2 separate regions of the Homo sapiens genome follow, and region 1 is linked to region 2. Evidence: fine-mapped expression QTL. A gene starts in region 2. The other region holds a variant in brackets. All regions are shown on one strand. Distances are between the middles of the regions.

The links. PIP is the estimated chance that this variant, and not a neighbour inherited with it, causes the effect.
Region 1: its variant is fine-mapped to the expression of YY1 in whole blood (TOPMed, PIP 0.93).

The regions. Positions count from the first base shown.
Region 1 is chr14:100,277,223-100,291,446 of GRCh38, reverse strand. It overlaps YY1 (YY1 transcription factor), which reads right to left. Exons shown (of 5, transcript NM_003403.5): 5 at 8,659-14,029. The coding sequence ends at 13,847. MIR6764 (microRNA 6764) reads right to left here and starts at 14,090; the gene lies at 14,030-14,090. It overlaps SLC25A29 (solute carrier family 25 member 29), which reads left to right. Exons shown (of 4, transcript NM_001039355.3): 4 at 1-331. RefSeq lists silencers at 5,369-6,128, 6,159-6,268 and an enhancer at 12,134-13,114. The variant C/T (reference allele first, on the strand shown) is at 9,592.
Region 2 is chr14:100,227,380-100,244,034 of GRCh38, reverse strand. YY1 (YY1 transcription factor) reads right to left here and starts at 4,891. Exons shown (of 5, transcript NM_003403.5): 1 at 4,112-4,891. The coding sequence starts at 4,790. YY1-DT (YY1 divergent transcript) reads left to right here and starts at 5,414. Exons shown (of 2, transcript NR_189150.1): 1 at 5,414-5,564. RefSeq lists silencers at 3,290-3,969, 4,240-4,289, 4,780-4,849, 5,000-5,079, 5,140-5,739 and enhancers at 3,980-4,139, 4,977-5,829, 10,709-11,209, 11,210-11,710.

The DNA.
Region 1 (14,224 bases), 49 kb before region 2:
TCCCCCAAAGTGTGCAGAGGGCTCAGCAGAGAACAGTATGGGACCCCCTCACCAGGCCTGGAACACCTCCAGCCACAAAGAAGCCAAAGGTCAGTCCCTCTGCTCCCCAGCAAACGGTGCCTCCCAGGCATTCTCAGTGCCAGGGCTTCATCCCTGTGAAGGCACAGGGCCTGCTAGTGGGCACAGGGGTGGCTAGTTGGGGCCTGGGGCAGAGGAGGGCTGCACCAGGCGTCCTGGGGAATGTGCTCAGTGAAGACGACACTGGGCTTTGCACAGCCTGGTGTCGCTGTACAGAAACTGTCAAGGGAATAAAGTGTTCTTTGTTTTTTAAGTGGCGAGGCTGCCTTTGCATATGGTGGAGGAAAGGGCTTCATTCAGCACCCTTGCCCTGGAGTCGAAGGGGCCAGCTCAGGGGTGCGTGTGCCCTTGGACCCTGACAGCAGCCTTGGCCATGTGACCTGGGCAGTTGCGGATACATCTGAGAGCCTGTTTTCTCATCTGCAAGGCAAGCTAATGAAGGGCGTGAACACGCTGGTGCAGCCTGGCCATTCAGCAGATGCCCCTCTGCTATCATCATCCCAGCAATGAGAGAGAGAGGCCTGTGGTGAGGGGCACTGGCGGGCGGGGCAGCAGGGGCAGGGTGTGTCCCAAAAACAGCTTCCTGGAAGAGGGGAGGTCTGAGTGGAGCTGACCATTTCAGCCACCCGGGCAACTTGGGCACAACTGTACTTAACCCAAACTAGGAGGTCAGAGAGGGCTTCCTGGAAGAGGGCATCCTGGAGCTTTGCCAAAGGTGTGGTGTGGGGGTCTCACTGCCCACCTCACCTGCAGTTCTGTTCAGCCTCCTGGAGTCAGCCCTTGGCATCCTGAGCCTCTGCAGCCACCAGCCCTGGAGGCTTTCCCTCCCAAGTGCTGAGCCAAGAAGCTCTGCCCACTGACAAGGGGGAGTCGGGGAGGGGCCCCAGTTCCTGTGCCTGTTTAACCCTAGTGCTAGCCTGGGAAGTTGGGCTTTACAGGGAGGCAGGAGGCGGGGAGGAAGCTGGCTGTTGACCCCTGGGGTCTCCTGGCCTCTCTCGCTTCTCTTTACTCTGAAATAAACCAGGGGAAGCTCCCAGGGATGGGGGAAACACCCTGGCCATGGGCACAGAGAGGGGCCCCTTCCCTAGCTCCTCCATGTCCAGCTTTGGCAGCCCCTTTGCCTCTCTAGGCCTGGGTGGCTGAATCTCTCAGGGCAGCTTGAGTGTGGCCTGTGGCTGTGGTCCCCATCACCCTGGATCTCTCCACACATCTGCACTCTCTAGAAAGGCCCCAACGTGACCCTTGTCAGGAACTAATTTGAGCCCTGCTCACCCTGGGGCTTCTCCACGAACCCTGCGGCTGCCTGCCCTCTGGGGACAGCACACAGACAGGCCAGCCCTTCAGAAGTGAGGAGTGGTGCGGCAAGGAGCAAGGTGAAGGGGCGGGGGGCTTCTAGCTCCCTCCCACTTCCCAGTTCAGCGGCCTCACATGACCAACACATCTGCCAGGCAGGGAGTAGAGTTGTTGTTTTTAATGAATTTATTTTACATTTTCTTTTCTCCCTGATTTGAACTTTTTTTTTTTTTTTTTTTTGAGTCTTGCTCTGTTGCCCAGGCTGGAGTGCAGTGGTGCTCTTTCAGCTCACTGCAACCTCTACCTCCCGGGTTCAAGTGATTCTTCTGCCTCAGCCTCCAAGTAACTGGGATTACAGGCGTGCACCACCACACCTGGCAAATGTTTCTATTTTTATTAGAGACAGGGTTTCACCATCTTGACCAGGCTGGTCTCAAACTCCTGACCTCAAGTGATCCACCCGCCTCAGCCTCCCAAAGTGCTGGGATTACAGGTGTGAGCCACTGCGCCCGGCCTCTGATTTCAATTGATTTGGAATAAGTGATATATGAAGTGCTAAAAACTAAAAATACTACCAGAATCCAGGCTTGTGCAGTGAAGAGGAAAACCTCCTTCCACCTCCCAGGGGCCAGCCTCTCCTCCTGAGTCGAGGACAGTCTCCAGTTCCCAGAGGGCATCCAACACATCTTGGGCAAGTGCCAGCATGGAGCAGCGGAGGGACATCTGCACCCCCTACAAAGTGTGGCCGAGGTCCTGACTGTTCTGTTCTTTGCTGTCTTCCCTTGACAGTGATCCTGGAGATTGCATCCTTCTCCTAGGGCTGCCGTAACAAAACACCACACACTGTGGCTAAACAATAGCCAAGTGTCCTCTGAGAGTTCTGAAGGCCACACTCCAGCTGCAGGCAGGGTTGGTTCCTTCTGGGGGCTCTGAGGGACGAACTGTTCCCTGCTTCTTCCAAGCTTCTGGGGGCAGCTGGCAATCCTTGGCTCCCTAGGCTCACAAGAGCATCGCTCCGATCGCTGCCACCATCTCTTGCCGCCTTCTCCTGTGTGTCTGTGTCTCCATGTCTTCTCTTTGTATAAGGGCACCAGTCATATGGGATTAAGGGCCCACCCTACTGTAGTATGACCTCATCTTAACTAAAAACATCTGCAGAGACCAGGTTCCAAATCAGGCCAAATTCAGTTGCCTGGAGTTAGGACTTGAACGGATTTTTCTGGGGCCACAATCCAACCTTCAACAGGGCTCTGTATTGGTGTGTTTGAATGGTCCTCCTTCCTGCTGACAGCTGCATGGCATATTTCATTGGATAAACTTTGCTTGATTTGCTTTTCCAGTCAGGTTTGGGAGAGTAACTGGGGGACACGTCTGAGCAGAGTCCTAGAGGAAGAGCAGCAGCGGACGGGGCCACAGATACCACTAGGCTGTAGCTGGAAGGGCAGATGTAGCCAAGGTCCCGAGGTGGAAGGGGTGGGTGGGGGCTGGGGAGGGGGGTGAGGCAGGGCCTGGAGGACAGCAGGGCCAGACGTTCAAGAGGGCCACCAGGGCGGGTCACATGGCAGTGCCTTGGGGACAGTGGCAGATCCTCCTAAGTGCCAACTGCTCTTGAAATCTCAACTTGATCTGGGCTTCAGTATGTCTAATCAAAACAGCTTCCCAAACTGTCTTTTTTTTTTTTTTTTTTTTTTTTGAGATAGAGTTTCACTCTTTTCACCCAGGCTGGAGTGCAATGGCACAATCTTGGCTCACTGCAACTTCCACCTCCCAGGTTCAAGTGATTCTCCTGCCTCAGCCTCCTGAGAAGCTGGGATTATAGGCGCAGCAACCATGCCCTGCTAATTTTTTGTGTTTTTAGTAGAGATGGGGTTTCACCACGTTGGCCAGGATGGTCTCAAACTCCTGACCTCAGGTGATCCGCCGCCTCAGCCTCCCAAAATGCTGAGATTACAGGCATGAGCCACCGCGCCTGGCCCCCAGACTGTCTTGCGGCCGGAGCTGGCCATATGTCTGACAGCTTCTGAGAAAGCTGTGAAACAGGTAAAACACACTGTGGCACACCCCTTGACCTCTGGTCTCTGACCTAGCTCTCTGCTTCCCACTGAAAAGGGAATAGGATGCCTGGAGGTGCAGTGGGAGAGACCACGGCCGTGAGCCACTGAGCCAGCCTGGCCTTGGAAGGCTGGTCACACTCCTCTCATTCAGCACACTATTCCTGTCATTTGCAGCCAAATGCACCACCAGCCGCCATGCAGAGCTGACTTTATTTCGTTGCATCAGCAGCTGTGAGCAGGTTTTACCCAGGGGAGTGACAGGATCCAATTTATGTTTTGAAGACCCCACAGGAGGTTAGGAGGCAATAAGAGGCAGGCCAGGGTGGGGGGCAGAGGCCATGAGGGAGTCCAAGCCAGAGGACCTCTTGAGGCCAGGAATTCGGAGGGGGGGGGTGGTGCTCCAGTGGCAGGTGGGCGAGACCACTGGGGAATAAACGGCAGAAGAAGCCCTTGGAGGTGTTGAGGGTGCAGTCAAGGGAGGCGAAACTATGTGGCAGGAGCTAGAGTCTGAACTCCGCAGGGATCTGGAGTTTATGGCTCCTTCCTTGACCCCTTAAGGGAAAGGGCTATGAAACGGCACTGCCAAGGCATTTGTCTCTGGGGTGGGAAAGGGGGAGGGAGGCTTAAAGCGTGGAAGGGCAGAGAGAAGGGGGCAGGCCCCGTGAGGGCTGGTGCTCAGGTCCTTGGTGCAGAGTTCAGGCAAAGCAGTGGCAGTTTGGGGAGTCCAAATCTGATAAACTGTTTTTCCAATCTCAGAGCCCACACTGGCTTCACACACAGACTTCCCCTTCCCTTTTCTTTTGATCCCTTTGGACATCAGGTGCATGGAGTGAATGGAGCATAAGCCTCCTTGTGCCCTTCTCATCATTGGCCTGGGCCTTTAGTGAGTCATTTCTTATAAAAAGCACCCGTGAGGCCACACTGACCTGGGACCTTCACCAGCCCTCCTTGTGCTGGGTGGGTTCTTGTGACTGTAGGGATGGCTCAGCCCTATGCACACCCATCCCTTCATTCTCCCAACAGCCATACAAGGTCGGTGCTGGCACCCCCATTTTGCAGTGCAGGGTACCAGTTGGGGAGGGTCCCTGTCCAAGGCCACACAGCTAGTTGGTGCTGAAGCCAGCGCCAGGAGCCAGTCAGCCCATCCTTTGCCCTTCAGCAGGATCAGCTGGGGCCAGGCAACCCTGGAGCGGCAATGCAAGAACCAGAGGGGGCCTGGCCAGGGCAAGGGTCCAGGTCCCATGCTCCTGGGTCTCAGCTTCCTTGCTGCTTCTTACACACCCCTGACCTCATGGTACCCACCTACCCACGGAGAGGCAGATGCATTGCTGGGTCCAGAGGCCACTTCCCAGGGAACTGGGAAAGGCGGTGGGGCCAGTGTCCACCTTGATCAGGGCACAGCAGAGATAGGGCAGAGGCTGAGGGGAATGGGCCTGTGCCCCAGGGGCTCCTTGCTCAGCCTTGCTCTCCTCCGACTTGACCTCCCCCAGGATCGTGGGGAATGCCAGACGCCCCCACCAGCGCCCCTCTGCAAGCAACACCCCCCCCCCCAGCCATGCTCTGCCAGGCCAGCCAACACCACGCCAGCTGTAATGATGTCCCACAAAGTTTGGGTGAATGAGTAAGTTCAAATCTGGCTTGAATATCCTTGGGGATGGTGAGGACACAGGACAAAGAGCAGACACAGGGGAACATGGTGGGCTCTGTTTGGTGTTGTGACAGTACTGGCCGGTTTCTTGTTTATCTCCCCAACCTCTACCTTAGCTCCATGAGGGCCAGGGGTGCAAAGTCAGCATGCTGAATGAATGAGTGAATGAATGGGTGAGAGCAGAGGCTGCTGAGTACAGGGCCAGGTTGGGTTTTGCCAGGCAATACAGAGACGGGCCAGGGAAGACGGAATGTACACTGTGAGGCCAGAACACGCTTGGGGGCAGAGGGTGAAGCGGTGATGGGCTGGAGAGGGGCTGGGGCGGCCGGAGTGGCTCCAGAACCTACAGGCAGGGTGATGGTAGGAGCCCCCGCCACGCCCGTGGTGGAGCTCTCCGTGGGGAGAGGAAAAGCATCCCCAGCTTGGAGGGCTCCAGGACGTCCCTTTGGGCCGGCACCCCAAGGCCCTGTCTCCCCGCTTCCCGGGCCCGCCCCCTAATCCCAGGACCGCAGCCTCTCCCACCCCGCCCTCCAGGGGGCGCTGCTCCACCGGGGGGAAGGGGGGGCGTCCCAGGGCCTTGCTTAGCTGGGGCCCCCTGGTATGTGGCCCCTCCCTCCTCGGGCGTCGCCGCCGCACCGCCCTGCCCCGTGTCCCTGTGGCCCTGGCGGCGGGAGTCTCCTCCGCCCGAGGCCTCGGGCAGGTGGGGTGCACGCAGCCTCCTTCCGCGTTTCTCGGGCTCTGAATCTCCGCGCCCCCGTGGCCCTGGGCTCACTCCGCGCGGGGGACGCTCGTAAGCGGCGGCGGCTCGCGGGGACCCCACACTCAGGGATTCTGGACAGCCCCCACCGCGCCTCGGGTCCCCGCGAGGTCCGGGCCGCTCCGCGCTGCGCACGCGCAGCCCCTCCCCACAGCGGACGCGGCCCAGCCCCGGGGCCCGCTGGCACAGTGCCCTCCTGCGGCCGGCGGCGGCGGCGCACCCTGCGGGTGGGGGCCCAGGCGCAGGTCTAGAAGCCCCCGGGGCCGCCCGCCAGAGCAGCGTGGGGGACAGGCCCTGGAGCACTGCAGGGTGGCAGGGAAGGGCTGGGACAAAGGCGCGGCCCAAGTCCCCAGAAGGGTCTGGGGGCGGGCAGGGCTGCCCGCGCTAAGTGCTGGCCAAAGGCCAGGCGGGCAGGGGCTAGGGCTGGCCACCAGCTCCCGGGATATTCCTAGGGTCCGGTACAGACGCACGTGGCAGGCCAAGAAGAAGCCATGCAAACACCTGAGGGGCGTGCTCAGACCCCGTCCTGCCTCCTTGCCTCCTCTCCCTCCCTAGCTACCCCGCCCCCCCCCGCTTTTTTAGACGGAGTCTCGCTCTGTCGCCAGGCTAGAGTGCAGTGGCGCGATCTTGGCTCACAGCAACCTCCACCTCCCAGGTCCAAGCGATTCTCCTGCCTCAGCCTCCCGAGTAGGTGGGATTAGAGGCATGCGCCACCACGCCCGGCTAATTTTGTATTTTTAGTAGGGAGGAGGTTTCTCCATTTTGGTCAGGCTCGTCTCAAACTCCCGACCTCAGGTGATCTGCCCGCCTCGGCCTCCAGAAGTGCTGGGATTACAGGCATGAGCCACCGCGTCCGGCCCCTAGCCCCTATTTATCACAGCCTTATCCTCCTTCCTCCAGATGTCATGCCAGTGCCAGTAGGGCAATGCCATTCCTGCCTAAAACAGGGCCTGGCACATAATTGCATTGATCGAATCAGGGCCCCTGGAGGTGGAGAGGTAAGCTTTGGAAACGAAAACTCCAAGAGGGAGGGGAGGGACAGGACAAGAGGTGATCCATTAGGAAAGGCTGAAAAATGAGATAAAGCCAGGACTGGGCTCTGAGGGTCGGCGGGACTGGATTTTTCGGTAGGAAGTAGGGAACCGCTGCAGTTCAAATCACGTGCTGAGACCCTGTTAGCAGAAAGGCCGTGTGGGGAGGTCAGCAAGGACCGAGGGGAACGGTCACAATGGCGGGCAGTCGGGGAGCCCTGAGGACCCTTCCAAGGCCAGGAGGCACCACTGCGCCAGAACAGAAAGGGCCGCACACCAGGGAGGCCGATGCACTGCTCCATAAACAAGGGCCAGGGCTTTTTTGAAAGGGGACTGGAGGAGAATTCAAGCTAAGGAGCCAGTGGCAAGCAGAGTACCTTGGAAGCCAGGCAGGCTTGGGCTTTGAATTCTGGCTGCCTGGACTTTGCAAATAAATCTGAGCCTGTTCCTCTCTTACAGCATGGTGATATTGCTAGCTAATTCATCAAAGGGTGGTTTGGAGGAGGCCACTGGGTACATATGTGTTCTCAACAAATGTTATGGGCTGCGCATGGTGGCTCACGGTAATCGTAGCTACTCGGGAGGCCAAGGCAGGAGGACCACTGGAGTCCAGGAATTCAAGGCAGCAGTGAGCTATGGTCGTGCCACTGCACTCCGGCCTAGGTGATAGCAAGACCCTGTCTCTTACCAAAAAATAAATAAATAAATAAAATAAAAAATTATAGCCAGGCAGAGACACCGGCAAGTATAAAGGAGAGATACTGGTTTCATCTGTATCTAGGGGTTTCTAAAGAAAGCAATTCCAGGCCAGGCACGGTGGTTCACGCCTGAAATCCCAGCACTTTGGGAGGCCGAGGCGGGTGGATTGTGAGGTCAGAAGTTTAACACCAGCCTGGCCAACATAGTGAAACCCCCATCTCTACTAAAAATACAAAATTAGCCGGGCATGGTGGCACACACAACCTCCTGCTATTCAGGAAGCTGAGGCAGGAGAACCGCTTGAACCCGGGAGGCAGAGGTTGCAGTGAGCTGAGATTGCGCGCCACTGCACTCCAGCCTGGGAGACACAGCAATACTCCATCTAAAAAAAAAAAAAAAAAAAGCAATTCCAAAGCTTTAGTTCCTTCCCATGTAAAATCTACAGGTTTTCCACCGTCTTGCTCAGCTCAGCCCTACTTAGGGCCTTCACTCAGCAGTTCTGGGCTTGCACAGGCCTGCGACTTGCCACCTCAGTAGCATTCTGTCAGCAGCCCCTTCTGTCACTAGCAAAAAGGGAAAGTCACATGTATTCAAGTAATAATGAACTTCACGCCTCACTCTGAACCTTGCTCTGCAGAACATCAGACACCAAGGCCCCAACCAGAGGGAGGAAGCTCTGCTCTGCATTTTGCTTTTGGCTAAATCCTAAGTAGCTCTCAGTGTATTTGGTCAAGTTCTTCCGAGTCCATCCCAGTTAGCTCCGGAGCTTCCAGGGCTGACATGGGCTCATAGGTCCGGCTGCGTGGGCATTTCACTGGGCTGTGCTTTCTGAACAGTGGGTGAGGCTCTCTTTAAAACGCCCTCTTGCTCCTGAGCCCACCTTGGAGCTGAAAGGTTACAGAAGCATTTCTTGCTGGTGTGAGACCAAATCCTGGGAGTTCCCAGTCCTGTGTGTGAGAAAGCAAGCCGCAAGAACTGCCCCGGGCAGTTTAGGCAACTCTTAGACCAGGAAGGGCTCATGGCCTGGTTTCATGTGCAGTGAAACACTAAAGAAGTGGCTTAGAGGACTGAGGAACAAACAAGAACCACAGGCATTAAAAAGCTTAACATTATGCATTTATTATATTGTATAGAGCCATATTACACATGCTTGGTGCTTCAAACTGAGTTATCAATGTTTTTCTGGATGCAAAGCCATCTGATGCTGGATGCGGATGCCTTAAATACTATATTTCTGCATCTATGACCTATGAGCTAAGGAAAAACCAAGGACAATTCCAGAAATGGCAAAGAACACTTAAGAAAAAGATGTACATGAGACGAAATGCTAAGTCCTTGAGCCAGGGCCTACAGAAGTTACCAGAAAGCGAATAAAAACATAATTTTTCTCACCACCTGTTGATAATAGAGCCTCACATGTCCGGGTATGGACAATGTAGAAAAAAGAGGTTGTTCCGTTTGGTACTGATGCCTTTCTCCCCTCCGTGATGTGTGCGGACATTGTGCGGCCCCCAGAGAGAGCAGCAGACAGAACAGAGCACAGCAAACTGCCCCCTCCTCAACACATCCCAGTGCTGTTTTTTTTTTTTACAGCATCTGGGTGTCTCATGAAAAGCGGTCAATTTGATCAAACTTGCCACCTTGTGGAAAATCAATCAGTGTGCTTCAGATGAATGTGACGCCATCACACGCACCCTCCTCTGACATCCAGAATGCTGGCGGGGGACATGGGGCTGGGTGCCTGCTCGGCCAGGACGAAGCTCTCCATGTGTCACCTCCCACCTTACGGCACCCAGTTTGTGGGAGGTTTGCTTTGCCTGCTGACCTGATGCTAACGCTCAGCTTAAACGCTCCATTCCAGATTTTACAAGGGGACTGGGTGATAACGTGTCAAGTACATGCTGCCCATACTTCCCATCAAGCCTCAGTACAGTCCCAGCTTAAAGATCCTCTCTGGCACCACACTGATCCCTTGGGCCTGGGGGTGGATGCCAGGAAGCCTCTTGGCCACAAATCTGCCCTCTTGTGGGT[C/T]AGAGGCCAGCCCTCTCTTGCCTGACGTGACTTGTCTGAAGGGCCTGCACTTAAACCATCTTCAGGCAACCAGGGCATCTGAGCATAACCTGAGCAGTAACAACATAAATCAAGGGTCAGTAATTTGGGGTGGATGAGACCTAGCCAGCCATCCAGTCAGATGCTGCCGTGCAGGTAAGCATGATTCTGAAGGCGTGGGGTACCTTTTGTCCTGTAAAGTCAGAGAGAAGGCTAAGAAGTGCATGGCCAGAACCCCAAGAAAGTGCAGCTTGGAGTTTTGGCTTCCTTCCCCACCGCTTGGGTTAAAAGTTCGGGTGGAATGCACTTGCCAGGACCTGCTGGGCCTGAACTCTGAAGTGCTGCGCTCACATTACTGTCAGTGTATCCAGGACAAAGGGCCCGGAGCCAGACAGGTGCCCCCTACAGCCGAGGGTCCAAGGCAACCCTGTGACTCAGAGCTGGCTTCAGCAAGCCAGCAGAGCAGCTGGGAGGAAGCCTCATGGCATGGCTGTGGCATCAAGTGGGTGTCTGTGAGCAGCTTGGCTCTCACCACTGTTTTGACCTCTGGGATCCTTACTCTTGCTGGGGGTCAGATGTCAAGAAAATAGAAGGATTATTAAAGAATAATTAAATAATTAAAGATCAACAACATGAATTTCCCAAGCCAGGCTGATTTCCAGGTCACAGAAGTCAGAGACCCTGGAAGTGATCAACTCTCTTTGCCTATAGTCGGGGGTGGGGGGAGGTGGGTAGAATTGTCAGGTTTCCTTTTTTTTTTTTTTTTTTTTTTTTTTGGGAGACGGAGTCTTGCTCTGTCACCCAGGCTGGAGTGCAGTGGTGCGATCTCGGCTCACTGCAAGCTCCGCCTCCCGGGTTCACGCCGTTCTCCTGCCTCAGCCTCCCGAAATTATCAGGCTTCCAATTCCAAAACTTCTTTTTAGGGGGCCAGGTTTTCCTGTGCCACAAACTCTGGTCTGAGACCAGTCTGGGACACGTCTCCACAGTAAGTTTTGCAAGGCAGAGTGCAAACGGACGTGGGGCAGTCCTCCAATGTACGCACTCTCAAAACACTGCTCAGGCGGGCTTCCCCCGACTGGAAGTGACTCTCATCTACTTGTGAAGACATGAACTTGAACTCTGCTTGGAAACACGGACAGGTATTGCGCACACTATCCTGTGAAAGGGTCTTATTTAGCAAAATAAGTGACATTTAGAACTTTTACATGAAAACCAAATAGGAAAAAAAAAATCCCGATTTTCCTCAAATCCTCAGGCCTTGAATCTAGGCAAAGCACACAAACACCATATGAAACCAACAGCATGAGTTCAGGGTCATCTTGGAAAATAAATGTCACTCTGGGGTGACAGTTCTTTATACAAATAGTATGCTCCCCCTCTCAACTCCACTACCAAAAAGGGGGAAATAATAAGAAATTCAAAAATAGAAAACAACATCTTGTTAAGTGTAAACTTATCCTCTGGAGTTTTTATATTACATATGCTAGAAACATGCATTTATTTCTGCTCAGATGTACGAAAATATGTCTATCAGTATTACTTATAAATCAGATTAATCCTCAAGACAATGGACTCACTGTTAGAATACCATTTCAAACCTTAGTAAATTACATCGTTAGCAAAATTATAAATTCTAACCACAAGCAGAATGGGTTGAAGTTACACCCAATGAGAACTACCTCTACTCTTTATATTGTTGCTCATTTGTTAGTTTTCTATTGTTGCAAAGTCAGTGCTATGTTAACAAGGAACTTGTTTTCTTGGAACCCCAGATTAAACTCCTTACAGAAGTTAACTCTGCAGACTGAGAAGACGTGAACAGAGAGAGTCAAGGGGAGTGATGACTATTTCAGAGACAGGAAAGGACAGAAGAGATGACCAAAGGCACCCCCAAGGGATCAAGGCACAGAGGAAGAGGGACTTCATCCACACAGGAGCCTGGCTCCTGCAGGCCATGGCATGGCTCTCGGGGCTGCCAGCAGGGCTCCCCATAGCATAGGTGTGCTCTGCGGTGGGCCCTTGGGCAGGGTCCTGAGGACAGTGCCAGGGCCAGGCTCCAGTGCAGCACAATGTTGGGCAAAGGACTCCTAACACAGCCACGCTGGGGCTACTCAACCCGACAGTGGGGAGGGAAGGTGTGGGTGCTCACAAGGCAGGCATCCATAGAAGACGCTGCCCAGGTCCAAGTCAAAGAACTACACGTTCTCATCCGAGCCCTCGGCACTGAAGACCTCCACCATGGGCTGACCTCTCTCCTGACTGCCAGATACAGCAAAGCCTGGCTTACCCAGAAAACAGCTGGGGTCTTCTGCTTAACTCAGTTCCATCAAACTACCCAAGGGGTAACAGATTCTGGATGAATTTTTTAAAGGGTCTCAAGTTAAATGTTTCATTCATGATTCACAAAAGGCACTTCAAAATTCCACAGAGCCACAGGGTCACTGTTAGTAGGTCACCAATCCTCCTGTACAGGACCGATGGAGAAGCTCTAAGACAATGGGCTATGTGTTTCACCTGATGGGGTCCCTGGCCATTTGTAAATAAATCTCGGATATTAGCTAGTTTGTCATTTATCTTGCAGTCAAGCATACACAAAACAGAAAGACACACAGTATGTTTGCACTTTGAATAAATGAGATTTTGCTGTATCATGGCAGTTTATAAAGTATTCTCAAGTCTGTTATTTGACCTAAGATCCAACATTATAATCGTACATTTAAGAGGTTACAATGTGAGAGGTACTCATTGAGCAGAATTTTCTAATAATCTAATCACCTTGCCGATTTGCACCCAGTGTCCATTTAGAAACATGAAATTAAGCTACTGGCACTCAATTGCCACATTGCTAGCATTTAATAAGGACTCCACTAGATGGAGGAACAAGGGCTCTCAAACCAAATAACCAACGACCACAAGCATTTCCTGTCAGACAAGCCAAGGTCCTGCTGGAGCTGCCTCTGAAGGCAGCCGGCTGATGGACAGGCCTGGTCTTCCCTCTGTGTGCCCCACTGCCAGGTGGCACCTTACCCTGCGCAGGCGCTCAGCCTGCGCGGTGGTACAGATGCTTCACTCACACTTGCCGGGGGCTAAAATCACAGCCTATGACCAACCTGGCCTGGGGTGTTCTGAGGTAGTTCCTGAACTCGGGATGCCTGTTACCTACTCTCTTTCAGAAGTCAGGACATGTAGGAAGTATTAAAATATCCATGCATCGCTTTCATCAATAATCACTGTAATTGAGTGCAAAATAAAGGAAACTTGAGTTGCTTTATTTAGCTTCCAATTTCTGGGAGGCTCAAGAATTATAAGTATTCTGGACAACAAAAGAAAATAAGACTGTGCTTACAGATCTTGTTCTGCCATATTCTTGCTTTAGGATTGCTATTTTATTGTTGCCCTTTCTGTTACATGGGATGTACACATCAGGTGTTAAAAGGTACAATACATTCTACAACTGAGCACCACTTTCTGTAACTGAACAGGCAAAGAAATTACACTGAACATCAGCATCTGGCAGTATTTTTTTGGAAAAAAAAAGTGACTAAAATGGGTTTAAATTGATTAACACTATTAAATCACATCTAATATTTGATACTACATGATTCAATACAGCTATACGATACAATTATACAAAATGTGTTAACATCAAAGAATACAACCAAAATTAAGATAGCAAACAAAACCTATATAACTTTTTTTTTTTTACAGGAAAATACTTTTGAAGTATGCATGTAACTGCCCATTCTTTTAAAGAAAATCTACTGCAAGCAAAGTTATCAACCTCCAGAAAAATCACACGTAGCATTACTAAGCATATCCCCAAAAAAGTGTACAATATGCACACTTGGAAAATACAAAATTAAAAAAATTGTAAGCAACAGGTGAGCTTCATATTTATAAGAATGTGAAAAGAAGTCCCATTTTTAGCACTGTTGTATAAAGAATTGTCTTTTGATGCGAAGTTCATGAATTGTCCTCCTGTTGGGACCACACTTTACAAAAACACTGTGTTTTTGAAACGAGATTACAGAGCAAGATAGAGCATCTTAGCAATGTCATCTTAGTAAAGTTTTTTTTTTTTAATTTTTACTACTTTATCAAAACATGTCCCTTAGGTGTGTAGGATTCATTTTTAAAATTCTTCCTAGAAATAATATACAAAGGAGAGGCATATTTATTCCCAATCACACTTCTGGAAGATGCTTCCCGTGGTCGAGAAGGGTCTTCTCTCTTCTTTTCACTGGTTGTTTTTGGCCTTAGCATGTGTTAAGATGTGAGATTTCAGGTTAGTTGACTGAGCAAACTTCTTATTACAACCATCGAAGGGGCACACATAGGGCCTGTCTCCGGTATGGATTCGCACATGTGTGCGCAAATTGAAGTCCAGTGAAAAGCGTTTCCCACAGCCTTCGAACGTGCACTGTCAAGGAAAGACCAGAGATCAACCCACTCAGCAACTCTGACCAGACCCTGGGAGTCAGGAGCTCACTGCTTTGCTAGAGAACAGCCTATTTATTTTACCAAACACTTTTCATTCCTGCCCTGGGTGAACTTTGTGGATATAGTCTAGAATCAGCAGGCAGGTTGGACAACCCCGAAAACCCAAGGAGAGCCC
Region 2 (16,655 bases):
CCGTGTTCACGCCATTCTCCTGCCTCAGCCTCCTGAGTAGCTGGCACTACAGGCACCCGCCACAGCGCCCGGCTAATTTCTTTTTGTATTTTTAGTAGAGACAGGGTTTTACCGTGTTAGGCAGGATGGTCTCGATCTCCTGAGCTCGTGACCCACCCGCCTCGGCCTCCCAAAGTGCTGGGATTACAGGCGTCAGCCACCGCGCCCGGCCAATTTTTTTTTTTTTTTTTGACAGTGTCTCACTGTCACCTAGGCTGGAGTACAGTGGTGTAATCACCGCTGACTTGCAGCCTCGATTTCCCAGGCTCAGGAGATCCTCCCACCTCAATCTACCAAGTAGCTGAGAGTGACTACAGGCATGTGCTACCATGACTGGCTAATTTTTGTGGGGTTTTTTGTTTTTTTGCAGAGACGGGGTCTCACTATATTGCCAAGGTTCATCTCGAACTCCTGGGCTTAAGCGATCCTCCTGCCTTGGCCTCCCAAAGTTCTGGGACTACAGGTGTGAGCCACTGCACCCAGCCTGATCTTTTTGCTTTTTAAACCAAGAGGGTCTAAGAAGTAACTAGACCCTCGGGGAATACCCTGTATGTACAACTATTTTTATAAGGACTTCAAGTAACTCAGCTTGGGGCTTATGCAAAACTGTTACTTCACAGTTCATTCCAAACTAAGGGGCTATTTTAGTGAAACTAAAGTGTAGTTAAAACCTTCATGCCTAGGATCAAATGAGATCAAGTACACGAAAGCAGTAATGCTGCCCACCATGCTCAACCCATATGTACACATACATACAGATTTACCCAACAATTAACCCACTTTCATTTCTCCACTTGTTATGGAATTATACTGAGTATATCACGTCATTTCAGTTCTGAAGATGAAATCACCTTCAGAATTTCAGCTTGGGAAATGCAGAGTTATCCATAAGCTCTTTAGCTTCTCTTTAGTAATAATTCCAAATCACAAGGAAAAGTAAGGGGGATAGTTTACCACAAAACACATGTCCGAGAAACAGGCCATCCTATGTTACTGCCATCAAATATTTATAACTACCCTTATGCACAGCGTACTCTACCACACTAGCTAGACAACCAGCGCTTTAAAGAAATGGACATTATAGCCAGGGGTGGTGGTGGATGCCTGCAATCCCAGCTACTTGGGAGGCTGAGACATGAGAATCCCTTGAATCCGGGAGGTGAAGGTTGCAGTGAGCCAAGATCGTGACACTGCACTCCAGCCTGGGCAACAGAGCAAGACTCTGTCTCAAATTAAAAAAAGAAAAGAGAAGAAAAGAAACGGACGTGAAAACAACCCCAAACTGTGCCACCTTAAAAGCAGCCACTTGGCTGGGCGCGGTGGCTCACACCTGTAATCCCAGCACTTTGGGAGGCCGAGGCAGGCGGATCACGAGGTTAGGAGATCAAGACCATCCTGGCTAACATGGTGAAACCCTGTCTCTACTAAAAACACAAAAAATTAGCCGGGCGTGGTGGTGGGCGCCTGTAGTCCCAGCTACTCGGGAGGGTGAGGCAGGAGAATGGCGTAAACTCGGGAGGCGGAGCTTGCCGTGAGCCGAGATCATGCCACTGCACACCAGCCTGGGCGACAGAGCGAGACTCCATCTCAAAAAAAAAAAAAAAAAAAAAAAAAAAACAAAAAACAAAACAAAACAGCCACTTGCACACTTGTAAATGCTCACTTAATTGTAAATTGACTTCCATCAGTCAAGCCCCTCAGACTTTCTCCCCTAACTGGCTGACTCCATACATACCACTTCAGCAAGCAAAGCCGTACACTACCAGCTTCTCTGGATGTGGAAAAGTGGACCAGCAATTTGTTAAGATAAAATGCAGATCATGTAAAAATATGTCGGTTTTCTAAATTCCTCTAATTCCACACACTATGAGAAAAAGTAAATTTACTTTTGTGGTTAATGTATCTTTACCTAAATATCTTATTTCAAATCGTATTCTGAATTCTGCAAATTCATCAATAACTAAAACCCCCATCCCTTACTCATTGGTATTAACAAAAAAAAATGCCCCCCCCCCCCTTTTGAGACAGAGTCTCGCTCTGTCACCCAGGCTGGAGTGTAGTGGTGCAATCTCGGCTCACTGTTAACCTCTGCCTCCTGGGTTCAAGCGATTCTCCTGCCTCAGCCTCCCGAGTAGCTGGGATTACGGGCTCCCGCCATCACGCCTGGCTAATTTTTATATTTTTAGTAGAGATGGGGTTTCACTATGATGGCCAGCTGGTCTCGAACTCCAGACTTCAAGTGATCCACCGGCCTCAGCCTCCCAAACTGCTGGGATTACAGGCGTGAGCCACCGCGCCCGGCCAAAACCATGACTTTTAGTTCCAACATGATCAGTATGTAATCTCTTGAGCTACCAAAATACATGGAAATTATCTTTTGATAACCATTAAGTACTAAAGTATTCATGTTTCATTTAAACATAGTTTCTGCTAAACTCAAACTGCTATGAATTCTACAAGGCACCCTGGATGCAGGACAGCGCCTGTTAGCACCTTCCTATTAGATTTTGACAGCTCCTAGATCCCTTTGCTCAGGCCTCTTTCAATCACAGATCCACCCAGCTGTAGTTGTCTCATCTTGAGGCTTTCACCAGATACAAACTAGCTTTTTCAGTCCAGCCTTTTCATTTCTGTTTCATTCATTCCTCCGAATTTTAACGATCTTTTAATACTCAAAGGTCACCATATTTTGAGTCTCCATTCAGTTCTGAGAATTTATGAAGCTTTAAAGTACTTATAGGGAAGAGGTTCCACCGCTTATATGGAGTACTAAACGTAATCATCACAGGCATTAGATTAACTACGATGGCAGGATTATTCTCAGTCTATTTAGTATCTCAGCAATTTAGCTAGGTAGCATATGAATATACTAATAGGATACTGACCTAAAAAACCAGCATTGAATTAATAATTGCCTTTGAAGTAAAAACAGATTTTACACAGGCAGATAAGATCCTTTTGCTCTAGATGGTTTTCAGGCCTTCGTTAAAAGTAGTATTAAAACAGTAAAACAAAACTCAAAAAAACCCGCTTTCTATTATCGTTCTTTTCATGGGGAAAATAGATACCTTTCTACAAAGTAAAAACCATAAAGGCTTAAAATTAAACTACCCGATTTTATTTACTGGCAAATGTCCACAGTTGAGTAAACTAACCCAACCTATTCAGAAGAGCTAAATACTTGAGGGAAAAAAAAAAAGCTTTCCCAAAACGTAAGTGACTAAGAATTATTCGCTAACATTCACAGGCCCTTTCCACTAGGTACCGCAGGAAGGCGAAAAGGCCAGGAATTCGCTGGCAACGGCGGTGACAGGCTCCGACTGACGCTCGGAGCCCGCACACGCGAGCCCTACGTGCAGCCCCAAGTCCCGCCCCGCAGCAAACGACGACTTGGGCGAGCGTGACCGCCGGGGCAGGGTCCAGCCCGGCGCTGGGTGGGCGGGGAGCAAGGAGGCCGGAGGGCGCCCACGAGTGCCAAGCCCCCTCCTTCTGGAAGGTGCCACCGGGGAGCAGTTGGGAGTCCGGGGAAGTTGGGGGCGGGCGGGGCAAGCGCCCGCGGCGCCCTCCAGCGGCCGATGGGGTAACGGCAGCGCCGGGCGGGGGCGGGGGCGCGCGTCCCGGAGGCAGCAATCCCTGGCCCGCGAGGCCGCGGCGCAGCCCCGCCAACGACCTCCCGCGTCCCGCCCGGGCCGGGGGCGCGCAGCTGCCGCCACAACGGGCCGGCGGGCGCGCCCGTTGATGCGGGCGCGGGGAGCGAGGGCGTCGGGGAGCGAGCGCGCCGGCCCCTCCCCCGGCCGTCTCCGCCCCGCGCGGCGCTTCCCCCTCTCGGAGAAACTACGCCATTGCGGCCTAGCCGGGCGGCGCCGGCCCCTCCCCCCCGCGGCCTGCCGCCATCTTCGCGGCCCGCCGCCCGCCGCCGCCGCCGCGCCCCCGCCGCCGCACGGCCCGCCATCTTTTGGGGCCGCCATACTTGCCCTGGCGAAGAAGATGGCGGCGCCCATCACACACATAAAACATGGCTTCCCTTCAAAACAAAAACATCCCGGGGCCGGGGCGCGCGGCCGGCGCTCACCTGAGGACCACATGGTGACCGAGAACTCGCCCTCCAGGGTCTTGATCTGCACCTGCTTCTGCTCCCACTTCTTGTTGCCCGGGTCGGCGCCGCCGCCGCCCGCCGCGCCGGCCCCGCCGCTGAGGTAACTCTTCTTGCCGCTCTTCTTGCCGCCGCCCTTCTTGACGCGGCCGCCTCCCGACGACGACGAGCCGCCGCCGCCGCTCTTGCCGGCCGCCGCCACGGTGACCAGCGTTTGTTCAATGTAGTCGTCGTCGCCGCCGGCCGGCGCGGGCACCGGGATGAGAATCTGATCCTCGAAGCCGTCCTCGGCGCGCAGCCCGTCCGAGTCGTCGCCGCCCACCACCTCCTCGCGCGTCTGCACCAGGATCACCTCCTGGTGGTGGTGCACCTGGGTCGGGTCGTCGGTGACCAGCGGCTGCAGAGCGATCATGGGCGGGTGGTGGTGGTGGTGATGGTGGTGGTGGTGGTGGCCGGCGTGCCCGTGGCCGCCCCCGCCGCCGTGGTCGCCACCGCCGCCGTCCTCGTCGTCGTCGTCCTCCTCCTCCTCCTCGCCCACCACTGTGGTCTCGATGGTCTCCACCGGGATGGTCTCCACCTCGATCTCGTGCAGCTCCACGATCTCGGCCGGCATCTCCGAGCCGTCCGTGGCGATGTAGAGGGTGTCGCCCGAGGCCATGGCTGAGGGCTCCGCCGCCACGGCCGCGGCGGCCTCGGCTCCTCGGCTGCGGGCGGGCGGGCGAGGAGGCGGCCGGCCGTGGGGAAGGAAGGCAGAGGGAGGAAGGCGGCGAGCGGGCGGGGGGAGAGGGGGCGGGCGGCGGGGGAAGGGGCGGGCGCCGCGGCGGCGGCGGGGCTTCCCCGCCTCCCTCGCCTCGGTGCGCCCGCGCCCGCGCTCGCTCGGCCGCTGCTCGTCTCGGCTCCCCGCCTCGCCTCGCCTCGCCGCAACCGCCCGCCCTGGCCGCGCCTCCTCCCGCCCTCCGGGCCGGCGCTCCGCTTCCCCCTTCCTCCTGCGCCTCCGCCTCCTTCCACACAAATACCAACTCCTCAACCCGAGCCCAGATCTCGCCGCCGCCGCCACACTCTGCTCGGGCCCGGCCTCGCGAGACTTCCGCGCTGGCCTCAGCCCGCCCCGCCTCGCTGCCACTCGCCCGTTCGCCCTCTCGATTCTCCTCTCGGCCAATCGATCTGTCCGCTGGCCTCCGCGGCCCCGCCCACTCGCCGGGCTCCTCCCGGATTGGGGCCGATGGGACCGGGGGCGGGGCGGCTCGCACGCGCCCTGGCTGGCCCGCGGCGCGTGACGTCAGCGCGCCGCCGCCGCCGCCACCGCCTCCCGCTTCCCGGTGTCGCGCGGCTGCCGCCCTTCGCGGTGCAACAGCCACAAAACCCGCCGCCTCGGGCCGGGGCCGCACTCGGGAACGGGGCGTCGCCGCTACAGCCGCTGCCTTGGGAGCCGGTGAGCGGTCCGCGCGGCCCCGGGCACCACGGGGGCGGGAGCCTGAGGAGAAGGGAGGGAGGGGCCGGCCGGGAGCGGGGTTGAGGCGGGTGGGCGGCCCGGGGGCCGCGCGGGGAGCGGCTGGCGCGTGCGGGGCGGCCCTGTCGCCCCAATAAAGTCTGCTTTGACGAGAATCGCCTGTGCTTCCTTTTTCGCGTCGGGAGGTGTTTGTTCTTGTCGCCTGGCTTCGGGCGAGCGATGGCCGCGGGGTGAGTGTGGAGGACCGAACGGACAAAATCGGGCGACGCGGGCAGCGTCCGGTATCTCGCCGCGAGCGCCCGGCGGGGTGCGGGGCCGAGCGCGGGGTCGGCGCGAGCTCGGCGGAAGCGCCCGCGGAGCCCCAGGGCCACCGTTGGGAGGATGTCCGTTATTCTTTAGTGACCCGCGGAAACCTGAGACGCAGCCGTTGGGTGCCTGTTTCCCCGTAGATCTTAGAACTACAGGGTCCTGGCGGCTTTCTAAAATTTTCTCCTGAGCTTCCCCTTCTTTGCTCTCCAGTCAGCCATTGTTTCCCTTGCCCACCCTTTCCCCCTATTTGTCACTTTCATAGGTGCTCCTTTTTACGCCCACCAGGTTTTGCATTTGTCTCATTTAAAATTCCAAATTTTTTCAGCCGTGTCCTCCATTGTACCTGCAACAGAGCCTAGATTTTTTTTTGTGGCACGGATTAGCGGCAAGTTAAACCTTCCTGAATGAGTTACATTGCAGCGAAGTGTTTCTGCTCTTATCTGTCCTTTTGGTCGACCTGACAATTTGCCTTAAAGCAAAACAAAGATTTCCTGATTTTTAAGGAAACTATGACAAATTGAAGAGTTGGAAAGGTGTGTCTTTGTTGTACTCGTTTGGCCGATTTAACGCCTCTGTGAATTTGTTCAACTTAAATATTATCAACATTTACTGTTTTGTAATAGTGTTCATGCAGTTGAGGCCCATGATTTTCTGAACTGTACGCAATACATTAATCTTAGGCTCAACTTGTTAAAACAAGTAGACTATACATTCTCATTAAAAGGCAACTTTATAAATCCTAGTCCCTTCTTATTGCTAAATCGCATTGGACTTGACTTTTGAGAATATTAGTGTAAGGAGTGACAAATTAGATCGTTTTCTCTTTGAATCTGAGCTTTGAAACCTGAATAATTCCCCTTGGAGTACTGCACCCACTCAGTTTGGAAAAGTCAAATCTGTTGAATTAAGTCATCTCTGGCTTTATAGCTTATAAACTCTGCATAAATATTTCATGAATGGAAACCAGTTGTGGGAGAACTTTTACATGTCTTAATGCTTTTTAAATTTCACTTTCCCCACTCTCTAGTAATTGATGGGGAAATGGCACTGCAAGTAGTTGATACTTCCCCATAAACACCAATTGTGAGAGCAAGAGAAATGAGGGAATTACCCATTAAGCATCCTGGTTTCTGAGCTGTAGATCTGTAGGTGTTCACATTCAAGTGGAGAAAGCCCAAAAGGATTGAAAGCTTTGAGGAAAGGTAGTAGGTCAGAAAGCACTAAAATGCTCCTGAAGGCCATCCTAGTACCTGCTCCAGAAAATAGCTTTTTAAACTTGCCCCATAGGAGGTGACCTGTTAGGCCTTAAGTTTTTCTAGTGGGAGATATTCTTGTTTTCTACTGTTTAACGGTGGAGTATCTTATGACTAGACATGCAAAGATAATGTGTCGTGTGGCTCTCGCTTGCTTGCACTTGCTAAAGGTAAAAATTATTTTAAAAGGACAGGTCAAATTGCAGTTTCAGAATCATGGGATTCTAAAAGTGAGGATAGGCTGGGCGTGGTGGCTCACACCCATAATCCCAGCACTTTGGGAGGCTGAGGTAGGTGGATCACCTGAGGTCAGGAGTTCCAGACTAGCCTGGCCAACATGGTGAAACCCCGTCTCTACTGAAAATACAAAAATAAGCTGGGCGTGGTGGTGCACGCCTGTAGACCCAGCTACTTAGGAGACTGAGGCAGGTGAGTTAATGGAAACCAGGAGGCGGAGGTTGCAACGAGCCGAGATCGCGCCACTGCACTCCAGGCTGGGTGACAGAGTGACACTCTGTCTCTAAAAAATAGTAATAAAAGTGAGGATAAATTTAACTGCTGTGGGTTTTTTTGTTTTTGTTTTTCTGAGGCAGGGTCTAGCTTTGTCTCCCAGGCTAGAGTGCAGTGGCACAATCATAGCTTACTGCAGCCTTGAACTTCTGGATTCAAGCAGTCCTCCCATCTCAGCCTCCCAAAGAGCTAAGGACTACAGGTGCCCCACCACATGCCCAGCTAATTAAAAAATTTTTTTTTTGGATATGAGGTTTTAAGGGCTCTGTTGCCCAGTCTGGTCTCCTGCCTTGGCCTCCCAAAGTGCTGGAGTGCACCTAGCCTCCCTACTTTTATTCTGTTCTGTTTGTACAAAATGCATTGGGATTCCCTCTGAATTCCTAGAGTCCTTTTATTTTGGCAATAATTGATTATTGTCTCTCAACCCTATCTGAGCAAAGGCCATGGCTTTGTCAGCTCAGTGCCTTGTGCATGAAGTGATGCCTTGTACGTGAAGCTTGCTTTTTTTTTTTTTTTTTTTTTTTTTGAGATGGAGCCTCGCTCTGTCACCCAGACTGGAGTGCGGTGGCGCAATCTTGGCTCATTGCAACCTCCGCCTCCCGGGTTCAAGCGATTCTCCTGCCTCAGTCTCCCGAGTAGCTGGGACCATAGGCCCGCACCACCACACCTGGCTAATTTTTGTATTTTTATTAGAGATGGGGTATTGCCATGGGTGGCCAGGCTGGTCTTGAACTCCTGACCTCAAATGATCCACCCACCTCGGCCTCCCAAAATGCTGGGATTACAGGAGTGAGCCACCGCGCCTGGCGATCACTTGCTTTTTGATTCATGCAAAAACGTGAAGTTTAAAGTACCATGGCAGAGGGGAATTCTGTGTGATGTTGCTTGACCATTTCTTAGTCACTACAACCTCCGTCTTCTGGGCTCAAGCGATTCTCACTGCGGTGAGCCGAGATCATGCCATTGCACTCCAGCCTGGGGAACAAGAGCAAAACTCCATCTCAAAAAAAAAAAATTGAACATCAGCAACTATAGAAGAAATAATATTAGATACATCACAACAGTTGTGCAGAGCTTTCTAGAATCTCCAAGAAATCAGAGCTCACTAATGGCTGAGGAGATGCAGTGACAAATATTCTACAAGTAATATTCCTTTGACTACCTTCTCAGCACAGCAGCAGGACAAAGATGTGGACTGTCAGCTGACAACTCCTTTGCCATCTCCTCACCTCCCTCATTTCCCATTCATTCATTTTCTGAAACTTTCATTAAATACTCAAACTTGGGTTCAAGGAAGGAGGGTGAGGAGTGAGAGTAAGCAGAAGAATAAAGGCTATTAAGAGATGCTGATACCTCTCCTTCCTTGCCTAGTCCAGACAGTGTGTTCTCCTTTATTGATTACAGGGAGGCTATTAAATCTGATTCAGCTATATCTCTAACAGATTGGGATTGATTCAAGTCATGAACTCATGCTAAATAATTTTCCTTATCAGAACTAATTTGGCTGCCTCATGAAATTGCTTTGTGGTTCTAATGTTTAGTTCTTTTGCAGTTCCTTCAAGTAGGAAGGAAATAGGTGCTCTGCATCAGTTACAGTATTGAGACTGTTAGAGCCAGATGGGGCATCTAGTCCACATTTCATTTTGCAGACAAGGAAACTACCTAGGAGATGTGCTCAACGTCACATGGCGGTGTGGTAAAAAGGTAGTGATTGAGGTGAAAAGCGAGAGCTTGACTTTCCTGCCTTTTGTGAGACTGCAAAACCTATGTAAGTTTCAGTAGTGTGATCCTGTTCCAATTCACATCCACGCCCAGTTTTCAATGAAATGTTTACAAAAATCAGAATGAAAATTTTTGTGCATGCATCCAAATTAGTTACCCCTAGTTTGGATCCAAGTTAAATGAAAAACTAGGTATGTACATGTTCTTAACTGTCTAAACTATAGATACCTTCTTGGTTGTGGAGTCTTTGAAACCTGAGCTATTAAAGGGATACTTTCCCACCAAATCAATGCATATATTAGATTTGGAGTTTAAATTATGGTGAAATACCCTGTGTTTGTTTGTTTTTTTTTTTTTAGACAGGGTCTCACTGTGTCACCCATGCTGGAATGCAGTGGTGTGATCTCTGCTTGCTGCAACCTCTGTCTTCTGGGCTCAAGTGATTCTCCTGACTCAGCCTCCTGAGTAGCTAGGATTATAGGTGCATACCACCATGCCCTGATAATTTTCTTATTTTTAGTAGAGACGGGGTTTCACCATGTTGCCCAGGCTGGTCTCAAACTCCTAAGCTCAAGCAATCCACCTGCCTTGGCCTCCCAAAGTGCTGGGATTACAGGCATAAGCCATTGTACCCGACCCCTAACTATATACTATATATGTTTATATGGGGTTTTTTTGTTGTTTTTTTGAGATGAAATCTCACTCTGCCACCCAGGCTGGAGTACAGTGGCACAATCTTGGTTCACTGCAACCTCCGCCTCCCGGGTTCAAGCAATTCTCCTGCCTCAGCCTCCCAAGTAGCTGGGATTACAGGCACGCACCACCACGCCCTGCTATTTCGTTTTTATTTTTAGTAGAGACAGGCTTTCATCATGTTGGCCAGGCTGGTCTTGAACTCCTGATGTCAAGTGATCCACCGGCCTTGGCCTCCCAAAGTGCTGGGATTACAGGCACCATCCACCGCACCCAGCCTCCTAACTATATGTTAATAGGTGAAATCTCACGTCTATAAAGCTGGCACCCTTTATGTAGTATTTTATGTCCTTTTATAAGACCTTAATTAAATTCTTTTTCTTAGGCCAAGTGGTTTATTACAATGATTGAACCTGATTATTGCCCATAAATATAAAGAAAGTTGAAATCTTTAGTAATAGATTAGCCTCTGTTTTTCTCTGCTTTGCTAGTATAACGTCCCTCCAAAGAAGAAGCTAAATCAACTTAATTGTACTGAAGTTGCTCCTACTGCCCACCCATCCCAACAAATATGGAATGCACAATTAAACAGAATGGAATTTTTTTTTTTTTTTTTGAGACAGGGTCTCACTCATTGCCCAGGCTGGAGTGCAGTGGCAGGATCTCAGTTCACTGTAGCGTCAACCTCCCCAGCTCAAGAGATCCTCCCTCCTCAGCCCTCCAAGTAGTTTGGACTACAGGCATGCATCATCACACCCAGCTATTTTTTGTAGAGACAGGGTTTTGCCAAATTGCCCAGGCTGGTCTTGAACTCCTGAGCTCGAGGGATCTGCTCGTATCAGCCTCCTAGAGTGCTGGGATTACAGGCGTGAGCCTGGCCAGAAATTCTTTAATCCATGGTAACGTCCTTTTTTTTTTTTTTTTTTTTTTTTCTGAGACAGAGTTTTGCTCTGTCGCCCAGGCTAGAGTGCAGTGGCGCGATCTCAGCTCACAGCAAGCTCCACCTCCCGGGTTCACGCCATTCTCCTGCCTCAGCCTTCCGAGTAGCTGGGACTACAGGAGCCCGCCACTGCACTTGGCTAATTTTTTGTATTTTTAGCAGAGACGGGGTTTCACCGTGTTAGCCAGGGTGGTCTCGATCTCCTGACCTCATGATCCACCCGCCTCGGCCTCCCAAAGTGCTGGAATTACAGGCGTGAGCCACCGTGCCCGGCCAATCCACGATAACTTTCATAGCCACACTGGTTTTCACAGAAGCACATTTATTGCAGTGTGGAAAATACAGGAAGTCGATTCAGGTATTTGTGTGTGTGAGGCAGGTGAGCGTGGTGGAGTGGGAAGAGCTTATGTGATTTGGGAGTTAACTTGTCCTCTCTGTGAAACTGGGCAGTAACCTTTCTGATAGGAATTTTTTTCTGTTTGTCAGAAAGGAGTGACGCCCCACAGGGAGTTAGGTGAGACCAGCTGTTCAGTCACCATTTACCTCGCACTTGCAGTGCAAGGCCCAAAGGATAGATATAGCTGTGAACAAGAACAAGACAAGCAAGCCTGGCTTCACAGAGTCTACAGGCCAGAGGGACTTCGGCTGTGAACAGATAGTTCAAAAATACATATCTAAAAAATTTCTTTTTCTTTTGAGACAGAGTCTCTCTCTGTCGCCTAGGCTGGAGTGCTGTGGCACAATCTCAGCTCACTGCAACCTCTGCCTCCCGGGTTCAAGCGATTCTCCTGCCTCAGCCTGCTGAGTAGCTGGAACTACAGTCATACGCCACCACACTCGGCTAATTTTTTTGTATTTTTAGTAGAGATGGGGTTTCACCATGTTGGCCAGGCCGGTCTGGAACTCCTGACCTCAAGTGATCAACCTGCCTCGGCCTCCCAAAGTGCTAGGATTACAGGCATGAGCCACCGCGCCCAGCCCATACCTAATATTCATTTATAGAAGTCCTACAAAGAAGTGAGAGTTTGGGGACAGAGAATCTAGCCTAGCCTCGCAAGGTAAAGGCCTTCATGAGAAAGGGACATTTCAACTGTGACTTGAAAGTTGAACACAACAAGAAGTGCCCATCCCAGTGTTTGGCTTTTTTTTTAGTGTTAATATCTGTGTGAAACAGGAGTAGATAAAATAAATCAGGTGATAGATCTGTAAATATTTTGAATAAACTCAGAGCGCTCAGTATAAAAGGGCTGTATTTAGCCTTGGAAAATCAACAAATTAGTTCACTGAAACTGCTGCTGAGGATGGCTGTTGATTAACATTAGGCACTTGATTAAGATTAGGTCCTACTTTTTAATTTTTACTTGTTTTTTATAAGCCATTTCTTCCAAGTTCCCATTGAACTTGGGGGTTGATAGTGGAAATTGTTTTGGAGTTCTGGGCCTTGGAAGGTAGACCAGCTGCCAAGGGAATTAGAAAGGTTCTTAGCTGCAAAACTGGTAAATGGGAAGAACAGAACGTGGAGTCATACAAATTTGGGTTCAGGTCCTGGTTCTGCCATTTATCACCTGTGTAACTATCAGAAAAACTTGTAACTAATCAACTTGTCATTTTTTCAGCTGTAAAACAGGAATAAGCCGGGTGCAGTGGCTCACACCTGTAATCCCAGCTCTTTGGGAGGCCAAGGTGGGTGGATCACTTGAGGCCAGAAGATTGAGACAAGTCTGGCCAACATGGCGAAACCCCGTCTCTACTAAAAATACAAAAAAATTAGCTGGGCGTGGTGACACATGCCTGTAGTCCCAGCTACTTGGGAGGCTGAGGCAGGAGAATCGCTCATACCCGAGAGATAGAGGTTGTGGTGAGCCAAAATCACGCCCCTGCATTCCAGCCTGGGCGACAGAATGAGACCCTGTCTCAAAAATAAATAAATAAAACGAATAAAAATATCAGTCTTCAGGAGTTATAGAAATCTGTAAGGGTAAGTAAAATACTTGAATCAGGTGTGCAAATTAAGGAAGAGGGCACAGTGTTTGTACTCTCCAGGACTGGTTCTGTTTCCTTCTTACCCTTGTTCATAGGTGAACTGGCCTGCCCACTCACATCTTAGCATCTGTGTTTGTTCTTTGCATTTAGGCACTGCTGACTTCAGGACTAATGCTTATAGACAGGACCCAGTGTTCACTTAGTTTCTTAGGGTAGATGAGGACACATTGCTAGCCAGACCTTTTTTTTTTCTTCTTCTTCTTCTTCTTCTTTTTTTTTTTTTAAGAGATTTGGTATATTAGTGATAAGCTTTTAAAATCTGAGCCTCCAGAACCTGATGTGTTTGCCTCCTAGGTATCTCTCAAACCCAACTCTTCTCCATGCCTGTGACTGCTGTCCTCACACGGGCTCTGGCTCTCTCCCCTCACCTCTGCTGACCAGCTGCTCTAACTGCCTCCAGTCTTCCTTCCCCAAGGCACTCCTGGATTTTCCTAGCATTAGCATGTAACCGTATCACTGCCCTGATCAAAGTCTTCAGGGGCTTCCCAGGGCTTCAGCTCCTCAGCAAGGCATTCCCAAGCCTTCCAGCCTTATTCCCCGTCCTTCCTATTACCTCGAGGTGTGTGGACCATGACAGTTCCTATCTTTGTTTTCAGAGCGATCTTTTCCTCTGCCTAAAATATCCTTTCCCACCTTCTTCAACTTTATACTTCTTCCAGGACAGCCTGGATGACCTCTCTAGGACACTTTCCTTGGAAGGGTGTTTCCATAGCACTCTCCCCAAATTGTTGTCATTGTACTTACATTATAATACGTGTGTCCTTACATTTTAATACATGTGTCCGTTAATGTTTTTATTTTCCCACAAAAGCACACGAGGTTCTTCGAGGGCAGGGATGGGTGTCTCATTTGCCTCTTATTTCCAGAGGGAAAAGAGTCAGCCCAGTCTGGACACACGGTGGGCCCTATGTGAACAGAGATACCTGCTGATGCTACTGCCTCTGCCCTCCTTCACCACCTATTGCCTGTAGGGTAGTCCAGAATCCTTAGCTGGGCTTTAAGCAAACATGGTATGGCAAAGAAAAAAGACCTGATTTGAATATTTATTGACTATTTAGTCCATTGACTAGCTAAATGATCTTAGAGGAGTTTCTGAATCTCTCTGGGCCAATTTCTTCATCTGTAAAAAAGGAATATTACTGTTCAATATTGTTATAAAGTGTGATTGAAATAACGTACAACACTCCTGGCATGTAATAGGTGCTAAATACATTTCCTCATCTCTTACTGTTTTTCTCCCTCCCCCCTGCACTATTCTGAGCAGCCTCCACCTGCCACACACACACACACACACACACACGCACACACTGAAGTCACAGACGCTTCGTTGTTGGTGAATACATCCCTCCATTTTTCATCCCTCCACTAAGGGATGCCTTCTTCACATCCACCTGCCTCTCTACTCTGTTCAGATCCTGCCTGAACTAAAGGCTTGCCCAGATCCTGCAGTTAAAAGGAATTTCTTCTCATTCCTTTCCTGCTCTATTTCCCTATAGCATGTAATATTTCTAACTTAATAGTCAGCTGTCTTATTTTAATCACTTGAAGATAGTTAACTGGGTTGGAAGCTTCTGGGGGAAAGGATGTTTCTTCTGCATTTTTGTAGCTCACTGTGGTTCTGAGCACTCTGGGTCTGGAACATGTGAAGTGTTAAATAAATGGTTGTTCACTGTAGCCCGGAGAGTTGGGGATGATGGGAAGATGCTTCTCAACCTGGCTAAACAGTGTCTTCACAGTCTTAAAGGAATCAGACTCTCTGGGAACTCAGTTTTAGCTTACTTGTCCTTAAGACTTTTGAGTGTTATTAATCTCTATGATATCTGGCAATTAGACATAATTCTAGAAAATCCATTTCAAACACAATGAAAAATCAGTCTTGGACTTCGTTTATAATGTGATGAAGGTAAGGAAATTGCTTGCCCCAAACTACATGAAAGTGATATATATTTCTAATTATGTTCTCAAAGGGATATTCCAAAAGGAGTTAGTGCTGCGGAAATCCTTGAAGTAGACTGTGTTTTGGGAAAATCATTTCGACAAGCTCAGATTCAGCGTCCATAGAAAACAACGATTTCCAGTCTTATTGATTGATGTATTAAGCCAGTCGTTAGCAGGGAACAGTGTGCAATCTGTGTTACAGGTAGTTAGGGATGTTTTATAGACGTGCTCACACATACCTCTTCTAGCCATTAAGTAGTAATTTCCCTTGGACTCTGCTTATCCCTTTTTTTCTTCAAACCTTTAAACTCTAGATGCAAAGCTTCCTAGATGGAGAATAGAACTGTTCCACTTCTGGCGTCTACCAGAAGTGGTAGAAGTGGCTTCTACCCATGGCCTCCAGTAAGTAGCCATTTCCAGCAGTGAGTTCATGCTGAAAAGATTCATTAGTACCCATCTCTTCCAGTGTTCAGAGTCACAAACTAGCCACTGCCCTCACACATGTATAGCTCTTAAGTCACATCTCCTCATCCTATATTTGGACTATTGTTCTTTTAGGGTCCAAATTTAGTAGCTTACTTATTACATAATAAATGTAATGTGTACATTTTCATCTTATTAGATATATCTGTCATATGAACCTACTGATGTTGGGGGGGGCGTGTCTTGACTCTCATTCAACATATTTGTTACCTGCCAGCTTGATATTAATAATAACAGCTAACTCTCATGTAGCCCTTACCATGTGCCAGGCATTGTTCTAAGCACACATATTAACTCATTCAGTTGGCACAGCCGTGAGGTGTAGGTACTGTTAACTCCATTTTATGGTTTAGAGATATTCAGATGTGTGATCAATATACACTTTATGGGGTGCTTTTTCAACATTAAACTTAGTAAAATCTGGGTTATGTGTCATAAGTACCTTCTAGAAACCACCTAGGGGAAATAGTTGGATACACTATTGTATATCATGTGCGTGTGTGTGCATTCCCTGTGGCAGTCACTTTGTTGCCTACCCAACTATTCGTTTTTTTTTTGAGATGGTGTCTCCCTCTGTCACCCAGGCTGGAGTGCAGTGGCAAGATCTCTGCTTACTGCAACCTATACCGCCAGGTTCAAGTGATTCTCCTGCCTCAGCCCCCCAAGGAGCTGGGACTAGAGGCGTGTGCCACCACGCCTGGCTAATTTTTGTATTTTTAGTAGAGAAAGGGTTTCACCATGTTGGCCAGGCTGGTCTCTAACTCCTGACCTCAAGTGATCCACCCACCTCAGCCTCCCAAAGTGCTGGGATTACAGGCGTGAACCACCATACCCAACCCCAACTACTCTTTCAACAACCAATGTTCTTTCCTTACAGAGCCTCAGTTTTTTTCTTTTCAGATATAGAGTAGAAATCTTCTGATGCCTTGAGGAGAGGGAAAGAATCTACCTTAGCTTGAGAAGTGAATCCTGATTGGTTGAACAACCAAGGCAATCTTACTCCCTTCGGCCAGTGGTGGATCTGCAGAGTTGGGGGAATGCGACCCAGTTCTGGCCAGTGAAATGTAAAGGGAAATGTGTTACTAGAGAAGCTTCTCTTCCCTAATAAAAAGATAGAACTTCAGAATACAGCCCTCCTTTTGCCTGCCTGAAAACCTGTGTGATGGCCAGGGCGGCGGCCAC